Linked DNA regions of Homo sapiens: region 1 is linked to region 2. The links come from fine-mapping of genetic effects on gene expression. A gene starts in region 2. The other region holds a variant in brackets. All regions are shown on one strand. Distances are between the middles of the regions.

Region 1 (5,363 bases), 33 kb after region 2:
AGTGGCTCACGCCTGTAATCCCAGCACTTTAGGAGGCCGAGGGTGGGTGGATCACCTGAGGTGGGAGTTCAAGGCCAGCCTGACCAACATGGAGAAACCCCTCTCTACTAAAAATACAAAAATTAACCGGGTATGGTGGCACATGCCTGTAATCCCAGCTACTCAGGAGGCTGAGGCAGGAGAATCACTTGAACCCGGGAGGTAGAGGTTGTGATGAGCTGAGACTGTGCAACTGCACTCCAGCCTGGGCAACAAGAGCGGAAACTCCGTCTCAAAAAAAAAAAAAAAAGAATGTCCAATATCGTTCATTCCTGAACAATACTGTCACTGGGTACAGGATTCTAGATTAACAGTTCTTTTCTTTCAGTACTTGAAAAATATCCTGCCACTTGCTCTAGCGTCCAGTTTCTCATGAGAAATCTACCATCATTTGGCCGGGCGCAGTGGCTCACGCCTGTAATCCCAGCACTTTGGGAGGCCGAGGCGGGCAGATCACGAGGTCAGGAGATCGAGACCATCCTGGCTAACACGGTGAAACCCCGTCTCTACTAAAAAATACAAAAAATTGGCCAGGCGCCGTGGCTCACGCCTGTAATCCCAACACTTTGGGAGGCCGAGGTGGGCGGATCACGAGGTCGGGAGATCGAGACCATCCTGGCTAACACGGTGAAACCCTGTCTCTACTAAAAAATACAAAAAATTAGCCGGGCATGGCGGCGGGCACCTGTAGTCCCAGCTGCTCGGGAGGCTGAGGCAGGAGAATGGCGTGAACCTGGGAGGCGGAGCTTGCAGTGAGCCGAAATTGCGCCACTGCACTCCAGAGTGGGCGACAGAGACTCCGTTTCAAAAAAAAAAATACAAAAAATTAGCCGGGCCTGGTGGTAGGCGCCTGTAGTCCCAGCTACTCGGGAGGCTGAGGCAGGAGAATGGCATGAACCCGGGAGGCGGAGCTTGCAGTGAACTGAGATCGCACCACTGTACTCCAGCCTGAGCGACAGACTCCGTCTCAAAAAAAAAAAAAAAAAATTAGCCGGGTGTGGTGGTGGGCACCTGTAGTCCCAGCTACTCGGGAGACTGAGGCAGGAGAATGGCGTGAACCCAGGAGGCGGAGCTTGCAGTGAGCCGAGATCATGCCACTGCACTCCAGCCTGGGCGACAGAGCAAGACTCCATCTCAAAAAAAAAAAAAAGAAAAAAAAAGAAATCTACCACCATTCTTATTGTCTTTTCCCTACAGGTAAGTTGTCCTTTTTCTCTGATTGCTCTCAAGATTTTTTTCTTTGTGTTGAGTTTCCAGAAGTTTAATTATGATGTGTCTTGGCATGGATTGCTTTGGGTTAATCATGTTGGGCTTCACTTGGCTTCCTGAATCTATCATTTGATTTTTTTTTTTAACTTTAAAAAAAAAGTTTTTGAGACAGGGTCTCACTCTGTTGCCCAGGCTGGAGTGCAGTGGCTCAATCACGGCTCACTGAAGCCTCAACCTCCCGGGCTCAAGCTATCCTCCCACCTCAGCCTCCCAAGTAGCTGAGATCACAGGCACGTGCTACCACATCTGGTGAATTTTTGTAGAAATGGGGTTTCACCGTGACACCCAGGCTGGTCTTGAACTCCCGGGGTAAAGTGATCTGCCCACCTCAGCCTCAGGCGTGAGCAACTGTGCTCAGCCTCATTTAACTTTTTTAGAGCCCAAAACAAGCATGTGGATATAAATCTCTAAAAACTTGCCTTCTGTAGCCAAGTGTAGACACTCAGGGCCCTAATCACTCCTTTGCCTGTGTGCCAAGACAGATTCCAAAACTCTTCCTGAGGGGATCCCCTTGTTCCCCTTCTGGGTGAAGATGGCATCTATGTCCACATGTGTTCTGGTTAGGCAACTCATCTTTTCTGGAGGATTTTAATACTTCCCTCCCTCAGCAGGCTGTTAAGCCAGGTGACACCATACATCACCAGTGATTCAGAGAAGCACTACTTCAAGTCCTTTTCAGAGAAAATAACCTCAAACTCATCACAACACCTACCAGAAACCTGAGAAAAATCCTGATTCCTTTTTTTTTTTTTTTTTTTTTGAGATAGAGTCTCACTCTGTCGCCCAGGTTGAAGTGCAATGCCACAATCTCAGCTAACTGCAACCTCTGCCTCCCAGGTTCAAGCGATTCTTGTGCCTCGGCCTCCCAGGTTGCTGGGACCACAGGTGTGCCACCACATCCGACTAATTTTTATATTTTTAGTAGAGAGGGGGTTTCACCATGATGGCCAGGCTGGTCTCAAACTCC[T/C]GGCCTCAAGTGATCTTCCCACCTCACCCTCCCAAAGTGCTGGGATTACAGGCGTGAGCCACCACGCCTGGCCAATCCTGATTCTGAAGGTGGGCTGAACATACACTTCATTCGTGCTACTCAAGTACTGCTACTTCACATATTTAATCCCTCTGTGATAAAGACTCTCATGCCCACCTTTAAGATGATCTGAAATTTCAAAGCAAATCAGTAACAATTTTGGCATGGCATCTAACCACCAATTAAGAATCACAGCTCTTACAAATGCCAAATACCACCCAGAGCTGAGGAAGAGTTCGCAGAACAACACTATTTTGGTTCTCCACTGGTTAAGACTTTGTTCTAAATTACTTTCAGTGGGCATCATATTTTACATTAGAACTCCTAGGAGGAACAGCCCAGTGAAACTCACTGTGGAGTTCATGGACGATCCTGGTCTTCCTTACTATACTGTGCCCTCTTCCTGAGGGCTGTAGGAAATCTCAGATTCCAGGACCACGTGTGATTCTACTTCTTCAGAGCCACAGGCTGCTGCTAACCTTGACCACACTGAGTATGCAAATGATTTTCACGTCTCATTCTGCCTGGTTCTAAAAAGGCCCAGAGCCACGCCCAACTCCCAGCAATGTTCACCAAATAAAAGCTGAGTACGAGCTCCCTCTTCAACTTGAACATTTCCTCTTTATCCAGTTTTTCCTAACCACTCCGTTTTCATTTGCTTTAGTCATTTGGGCCCAGTGTACTTATGGTAAGCTTCCTTGCATCCTTTCTGGAACAGGGCGGGGGTATAAACAAACCAGAACTTTCTATGTGTTGCCCAAAGAAAGGTAACGAGACAGAGCATGGACTGATCCAATTGGAACACTAAGTTCCTATGCTGGGCTAGATTCTATGTTAAGAGAAACAGCAGCCGGGCGCGGTGGCTCACGCCTGTAATCCCAGCACTTTGGGAGGCCAAGGCGGGCGGATCACCTGAGGTCAGGAGTTTGAGACCAGCTTGACCAATATGGTGAAATCCCGTCTCCACTAAAAATACAAAATTAGCCAGGCATGGTGGCGCATGCCTGTAATCCCAGCTACTCGGGAGGCTGAGGCAGGAGAATCACTTGAACCTGGGAGGCGGAAGTTGTGGTGAGCTGAGATCACGCCATTGCACACCAGCCTGGGCAACAAGAGTGAAACTCCATCTCAAAAAAAAGAAGAAAAACGGCAATGAAAAACAAGGCCCCTGACCTTAAAGGGTTGAAATGGAGAGGGAGAGAAAAGAATTAACAAATAACTATGATGTGGGCCAGCAGAGATAAACGGGGAGCTTGGCAGAGATAACAGGCATTGTGCAGCACTGGTGGCCTGGTCCCCATGGGCTGTCCTGTCCCTGTTCTGGGGCATGACCAGTGAACTGTACCTGTCCCCATCTACACTCAATACAACCTCCCGGAGTCTCTTGCCAGTGTCCTCCCTCACCCATGTCTCCTCCCACTGGCGTCCCCCCTCACCAGCTGACCTGTGGGACCTACGGGACAAGCACCCGGCACATGGCTCTCAGGCCTTCTTCTCAGGGCTGAGCAGAGGCCTTCGGACTCAGGCCTGGCACTGGTGTGAGCAAGTGGTAGGCCTAGCACTCAGGCCTACCATGCTGAGCGCCTGGGGATGACCAAAGGAAGCAGCCTAATCCTTCAGAAAGCTCAAGGCAGCCACATATCAACAACCACTCATACTCTCCTCCCTTAGGAAATCCCTTCTGAGAGAAAAATGCTGCAACTACGTTATCTGCTGTGGAGCCGTCTACAGCAGGGGGAGTTTTAGCAAACAAAGGCGCCTTGACCCAGGAGAAAATGCTGCATTGTTTGAAGATTAAAGAAATCAGAAAGAGGCTGGGTGCAGTGGCTCACGCCTGTAATCCCAGCAGTGTGAGAGGCCACGGCAGGCGGATCACCTGAGGTCAGTTCAAGACCAGCCTGGCTAACATGGTGAAACCCTATCTCTACTAAAAATACAAAAATTAGCCAGGCATGGTGGCACGCGCCTGTAGTTCCAGCTACTCAGGAGGCTGAGGCACGAGAATCGCTTGAACTTAGGAGGCGGAGGTTGCAGTGAGCCGAGATCGTGCCACCGCACTCCAGCCTGGGCGACAGAGTGAGACTCCATCTCCCCTCCCAAAAAAAAGAGAAACCAGAAAGATACTTATGATAAGTGAAGAAAAATAAAACGATACTTGCTCTATAGTGACAACTATGTTAAATATGTTTGCATGTGGAATTGACAGAAAAGGTAAAACTGAAAACATTATTCAGGTGGTGAGATTCTGATGATTTTAAACATTTACTCATTTAAAAATGGTAACGCTTGGCACAGTGGTGCACACCTGTATTCCTAGCTATTTGGGAGGCTGTGGCAGGAGGACTGCTTGAGCCCAGGCAGTTCAAGATTACAGTGAGCTATGAGAGTATCACTGTACTCCAGCCTGGGCAACAGAGTGGGACTCTGTCTCTTAAAAAAAAAAATAAGTAAAATAAAGATGATATTCACTGCATTTTGTCTGAATATAAATAGTATGTTCATTATAAAAATTCAGCAGGATACAGACACTAAGTAAAAAAAAAACTGGTATGCAACAAGATCTAAAAAAACAGTAATCATAAAATAAAATAATAAAAATACATTCTAACAGACTTAAAAATAGAGAAAACAATAAATGCATGCATGATCCACCCTCCCAGATGGGATAAGCAGTCTAGACACCTGGGATGCATATCCTTCTAACCTTTCTGTCTACATTTGCACAAAGACCGAGTTCTGTCCAGGCTTTGGAAGCCCAGGAAGAGCCAGAAGAGATGGCATCTGACCCAGGACTTACAGAGTGAGGATGTCTAGAGATGACCAGTTAGAGGAGGAGAGAGGCACGGGGCACACATGCAGCCTCACACAGCAGAAGCAGAGTGGTGGACAGGACCCAAGGCAGGTGTGTGCAGGGCTCGGGGGCTGAACTAGGTCTGACTGGCATTGTCATCATCATCCATGCTATGCAGATCAGCCGCCTCCCATGCCAGGCCTCTTGGGCCACCCAACCTCAGTATGGGGAAAGAGT
Region 2 (5,372 bases):
TGCCTGGCATGCTTCCAACATGACCTTAGCCTGCTTTGCTGGAAAACCAAGGTTGTCTGCGGGGGTCCGCTCACCCTGCTCCCAGCCCCCAACCCCTCAGTGTCTTGGTCCAACCCCTGCTGTATGAGGCCAGACCTTCTCCTCACATCCCTCCAGCAAATGCACTTCCCTCCAGCACTCCAGGCTCTCCCCGTCCCCTCCAGAGCAGGGAGGAAGGCTCCTGAACCCACTGTCATTAGGCACTGGTCTCACCCCACTCCCCAGGGAACCCCTCTCAGGGCCCTTGTGGGACCCTCACGCTCTTGGGATCCACCTGAGAGCCTTCTCAGCCAGTTCTCCCTCTTGGCCAGTTCCAGTCTCCTCGGGGGACCTCAGGGCCCTGTCCAGAGCATCCCTCGTTTTCCACACTTCCCTCCAAGGCTGCACTCCCCTTGTTTGTTAAGGCACATCCATTTGTGTGCCTTCCTCTCCCTCCTGCCTGCCATTATCCTGGTTACCAGGAACCTTGGCATGGCTGCAATTCACAGTCCCTTCCCGGGCCACGTCTCCCTGGATTCTCACTGCCTGGCTCCTGAAGCCCTTTCCTGGCTCAGCCTCCCTTGGCCTCCCCAGCTGGGGCTGCCTTCCCTCCCTGGCTACTGCAGGTCAGGCTACCCAGGCCTGGCCTCTTTTCTCCATCAACCCTTGCCCCTTGAGCATCTCACACACGCCCAAAGCTACAAATACCATTGATCTACTACTGGATGACGGCACCCACATTTAGACTGTCTGCTCCAACCCCTACCCCAACACCACACTCAGATTTTTCCAAGTGATGTCACACAGATGCCTCAAATTCGATGAGTCCAGAACAGGACCCTCTATGCCCCTCACCTTCTCCCCACGAGCCCTCCATCTCAACAAAGACCACCACCATCCAACCACTCTGCGGCTCAGGCCTCTGAATCCACTTGGACTCCCCTCTCAGCCCTGTCCCGTCTGTAGGCAAACCCATATCCCACCCCTCCTTGTCCTCCAGGTTCCACCTCCCAGCCCCGAAAGTAATCACTGTCCCTTAAGGATTCCCCCTGCTCAAGGATTCCTCTGGCAGTCCACTACCCTGACAGCAAACACAGAGGTTTGTTGTTTTTTTTTAAATTTTAGTAACATATACACAACATAAAATTTGTCCAAACTATTTTCAAGTGTTCAGTTCAGTGGTATTAAACATTCTTATGCAACCCTCCCCACCATCCATCTCCAGAACTTTTTCATTTTCCCAAACTGGAACTGCACTCATTAAACAATAACTCCCTGATCCCCTCTCATATAAGTGGAACCATACAGTATTTGTCTTTTTGTGACTGGTTTTTTTTTTTTTGAGACGGAGTCTCACTCTGTTGCCCAGGCTGGAGTGCAGTGGTGCAATCTCGGCTCACCACAACCTCCATCTCCCGGATTCAAGCAATTCTCCTGCCTCAGCCTCCCGAATAGCCAGGATTACAGGTGCCCGCCACCACGCCCAGCTAATTTTTGTATTTTTAGTAGAGACGAGGTTTCACCATGTTGGCCAGGCTGGTCTCGAACTCCTGACCTCAGGTGATCCACCCGCCTCGGCCTCCCAAAGTGCTGGGATTACAGGTGTGAGCCACTGCGCCCAGCCTTGTGACTGGTTTATGTTACTGGGTGTAATGTCTTCAAGGGTCATCCATGCTGCATCATGTATCCGAATTTCATTCCTTTAAGGTTGAATGGTATTGCATTGCATGTAGACAGCACATTTCGTCTGTCTCATCGGTGGGTGAACTGATGTGAACCATTGTGAATAATGGGGCCATGAACATGGGTGTATGAACATCTGTTCAAGTCCCTGCTTTTGATTCTTTTGAATGTGTACCCACAAGCAGCATTGCTGGATCATACGGTAATTCTATTTTTAATTTTTTGAGTCATGATCATATTGTTTTTCACAGCGGATGCACCATTTTATATTCCCACCAACGGTGCCCAAGGGTTCCAATTTCCCCATATCCTCGCCAACACTTATTTTGTTTTATTGTTTTGCTTTTCACAGTTACCATCCTGATGGACACAGGGATGCTTGCAAAGTGACAAACTTTAGAGGTATCCCAGGTCACCCCACCTGGCACTGCGGACGCCCACGTGGCCCCACCCCTCACTTGGCAATATTCTCATCAAGTGTCAGCACTAGCTTATTGTATTGACTGCCTCCTGGCTGGACTCTAAGAGACAGTGTCTTTTATTGCATGCTACATCCCCAACATCTAGAACAGTGTCAGGCAAACAGTTGTTTAATAAACGGTGGAAGGAAGGAAGGGAGGGAGGGAGGGAGGGAAGGAGGGAAGGAAGGTGGGTAGGTTGGTTTCTATTTTCCACCAAAATATTGAGGACCTCTCCTGCCTGTCCACTTGCTCTGGTGCGCCTCTCAACCCTCGCGCCCCACCTGGACTCAATCCCGCAGTCCTGCCTCTCCTTCCTTGGGCCCCCGGGGAAGAACCCCGACAGCGGCCGGCACATTTGAGTGGGGCCCTGGACGTTTGGGGAGGTTTGGACACATTCCCGAATGCCTCCCTGCTGTGGGTTAGGTGGGCCTGTCTTGGGCTGGCAGCGAGGACAACGTTGTGGCTAGGTCGTCAGTTAGTGAGCCAGCACGGTCTGAGCCGCCACACTCCGCGCCCCGCCCACGCGCCCCGCCCTTTCCAGTTTTGCCTCGCCTGCTCGGGTCTTCGCTCCTGTAACCCATACGATCTTAGCCCCGCCCCCGTGGTGTCGTGGGTCCACGCTACTGGTCCTCTCCTAGAAAGCCGCGAAATGACCAGTTCCTCATTGGCCACACGTTCTCCCGCGCCACCACCGCAGCCACAACAACCGCCACGTGCTCAACCTTGGCGCCTGCCCATTGGCCACCAGCCTCTACCCGCCCACTCTCCCTTTCCGCCCCTAATTTCCCTCTTCTTCCTTCCATTGGCTGTCGGGCTCAGGGGCTCTCTTTTCAGCCTGGGGCGCGCAGCGCCTCGGATGCGGATTGGCCGAAGGCGGGGCTGGGAGGCGGGTTAAAGAGCGCGTTGCTGGCTGGGCCACGCGTGCTTGAGAAGGTTCAATGGCGTGGCAGGGACTAGCGGCCGAGTTCCTGCAGGTGCCGGCGGTGACGCGGGCTTACACCGCAGCCTGTGTCCTCACCACCGCCGCGGTGGTAAGCGGCCGGGCGGACCGGACGTCGCCTTGGTTACAGCCTCTGGCGGGAGGGGTGAGGGTCGCCATGGTTACGGCGTGGCTCCCGGGCAGCTCTTGACTGGCCCCTGGTTCCACAGCAGCTGGAGCTCCTCAGCCCCTTTCAACTCTACTTCAACCCGCACCTTGTGTTCCGGAAGTTCCAGGTGAGGCCGCCCCGCGCCGCGCACCTGTGGGCCCGACCCACCCACCCCGCACCTGACCGCCCGTCCCCCGTAGGTCTGGAGGCTCGTCACCAACTTCCTCTTCTTCGGGCCCCTGGGATTCAGCTTCTTCTTCAACATGCTCTTCGTGTATCCTGCGCCCTGCGGACACGGGCTGGGTGGAGGGCAGGCCGGCCGGGCTGGGAGAGAGGCCGGGACGGGGAAACTGAGGCCCCGCCTGGTGGCACTTCCTATACCGACGCCGTAGGTTCCGCTACTGCCGCATGCTGGAAGAGGGCTCCTTCCGCGGCCGCACGGCCGACTTCGTCTTCATGTTTCTCTTCGGGGGCGTCCTTATGACCGTATCCTTCCCGCAGGCTCTGGAACCTCGGGCTAGGGCGCCTCGGCGTCCAGCCTGTGTTGGTCCTGGGGCCAACACAGCCATGCCAGAGAGGGACACAGTCGCTGTCTCCAGCTTAGTATGTGTTGAGGGCCCACTCTGTGCTCAGCTGCAGGGGTCAGGGCTAGATCTTCAGTGCTGTATGCAAAATACAAAGCCATGCACAAAAGAGCCAGGTGGGTTGTCAGGGCCACTAGCTGAGCCCTGAATGCGAGTAGCCGGGAGAAACTGGGGCAGGGACAGGCAGTGGTTGGGCCCTGGGATGAGGCTGTAGGTGTGCAGGGCAGATTTCGTGGGACCTGAAGCCCGTGGAGTGTGTCGCCTTTATTGGACTGGCTCATCTTGATGAGGGAATAGCACATAGGGGAGATGAGGGGAAGAATTCCAGGGTCTTGGGAAGTCAGAGGGGCCCTGGGCTTGGGCTGAGGCCTGCACCGGAGCACCTTGACTCTGGCCCAGCTGCTGGGACTCCTGGGCAGCCTGTTCTTCCTGGGCCAGGCCCTCATGGCCATGCTGGTGTACGTGTGGAGCCGCCGCAGCCCTCGGGTGAGGGTCAACTTCTTCGGCCTGCTCACTTTCCAGGCACCGTTCCTGCCTTGGGCGCTCATGGGCTTCTCGCTGCTGCTGGGCAACTCCATCCTCGTGGACCTGCTGGGTGAGCCTCCCGGTACATCTAGTCCGCCCCAGGCTGGCCACTCCCCTCAGGACACGCTGCTTATGCCCTGGGGCCCCTCTCCCATCCTTGCTGGAGTTCTCCTCACACCTGGCTCCATCCCCATCTTCCTGCCCTCCCAGCTGCTGTGCTCTTACAGCCCCTCAAGCCAGCCGGCCCACATAATTTGCATCGTCAGGACGGATCTACTGATGCTTGCACGGTCCTGATGGGAGTGAGGATGGGAGGGTCAGGGTTCCTGCCCCATGGCTCCCACTCCTCCACTATTCTCAGGCCCTCCCCTCCCTGGGTCCTGCCTGCTTCTGGGCCTTTTAAGCTTGTCCTTCACGGCCAACCCGGGGCTGGCACTCTGTGCAAGGCTTTGGGGCACTCATGCTGTGGGGCCTGCAGGGCCACCAGGCTGTGGATGGGGGCCTGGGGCAGGCTCTGCTGGTCTAGGACTCTGGGCTGTGGAGGGTGACCCCACAGTCCGTGGCTGTCTCACAGGGATTGCGGTGGGCCATATCTACTACTTCCTGGAGGACGTCTTCCCCAACCAGCCTGGAGGCAAGAGGCTCCTGCAGACCCCTGGCTTCCTGTGAGTGTTGAGAGCCCTCCCTCCCTCTCCCCACCCTCAGAAGGATCCCCACCGATGGGGACCTGTGCTGGCCTGTGCTCAACACGGGCCCCTCCCCACAGAAAGCTGCTCCTGGATGCCCCTGCAGAAGACCCCAATTACCTGCCCCTCCCTGAGGAACAGCCAGGACCCCATCTGCCACCCCCGCAGCAGTGACCCCCACCCAGGGCCAGGCCTAAGAGGCTTCTGGCAGCTTCCATCCTACCCATGACCCCTACTTGGGGCAGAAAAAACCCATCCTAAAGGCTGGGCCCATGCAAGGGCCCACCTGAATAAACAGAATGAGCTGCAGTCTCTTGGCCCACAGCA

The links. PIP is the estimated chance that this variant, and not a neighbour inherited with it, causes the effect.
Region 1: its variant is fine-mapped to the expression of DERL3 in whole blood (TOPMed, PIP above 0.99).

The regions. Positions count from the first base shown.
Region 1 is chr22:23,803,625-23,808,987 of GRCh38, reverse strand. All of the region lies in intron 5 of SMARCB1 (SWI/SNF related BAF chromatin remodeling complex subunit B1), which reads right to left. Among named protein-coding and RNA genes, the nearest start is that of SMARCB1, 19 kb to the right of the region's middle. RefSeq lists an enhancer at 5,070-5,363. The variant T/C (reference allele first, on the strand shown) is at 2,276.
Region 2 is chr22:23,836,716-23,842,087 of GRCh38, reverse strand. DERL3 (derlin 3) reads left to right here and starts at 3,082. Exons shown (of 7, transcript NM_001002862.3): 1 at 3,082-3,193; 2 at 3,312-3,377; 3 at 3,451-3,524; 4 at 3,643-3,736; 5 at 4,234-4,429; 6 at 4,934-5,024; 7 at 5,126-5,372. The coding sequence starts at 3,101. The coding sequence ends at 5,219. SMARCB1 (SWI/SNF related BAF chromatin remodeling complex subunit B1) reads right to left here. Exons shown (of 9, transcript NM_003073.5): 9 at 4,079-5,372. RefSeq lists a silencer at 2,857-3,159.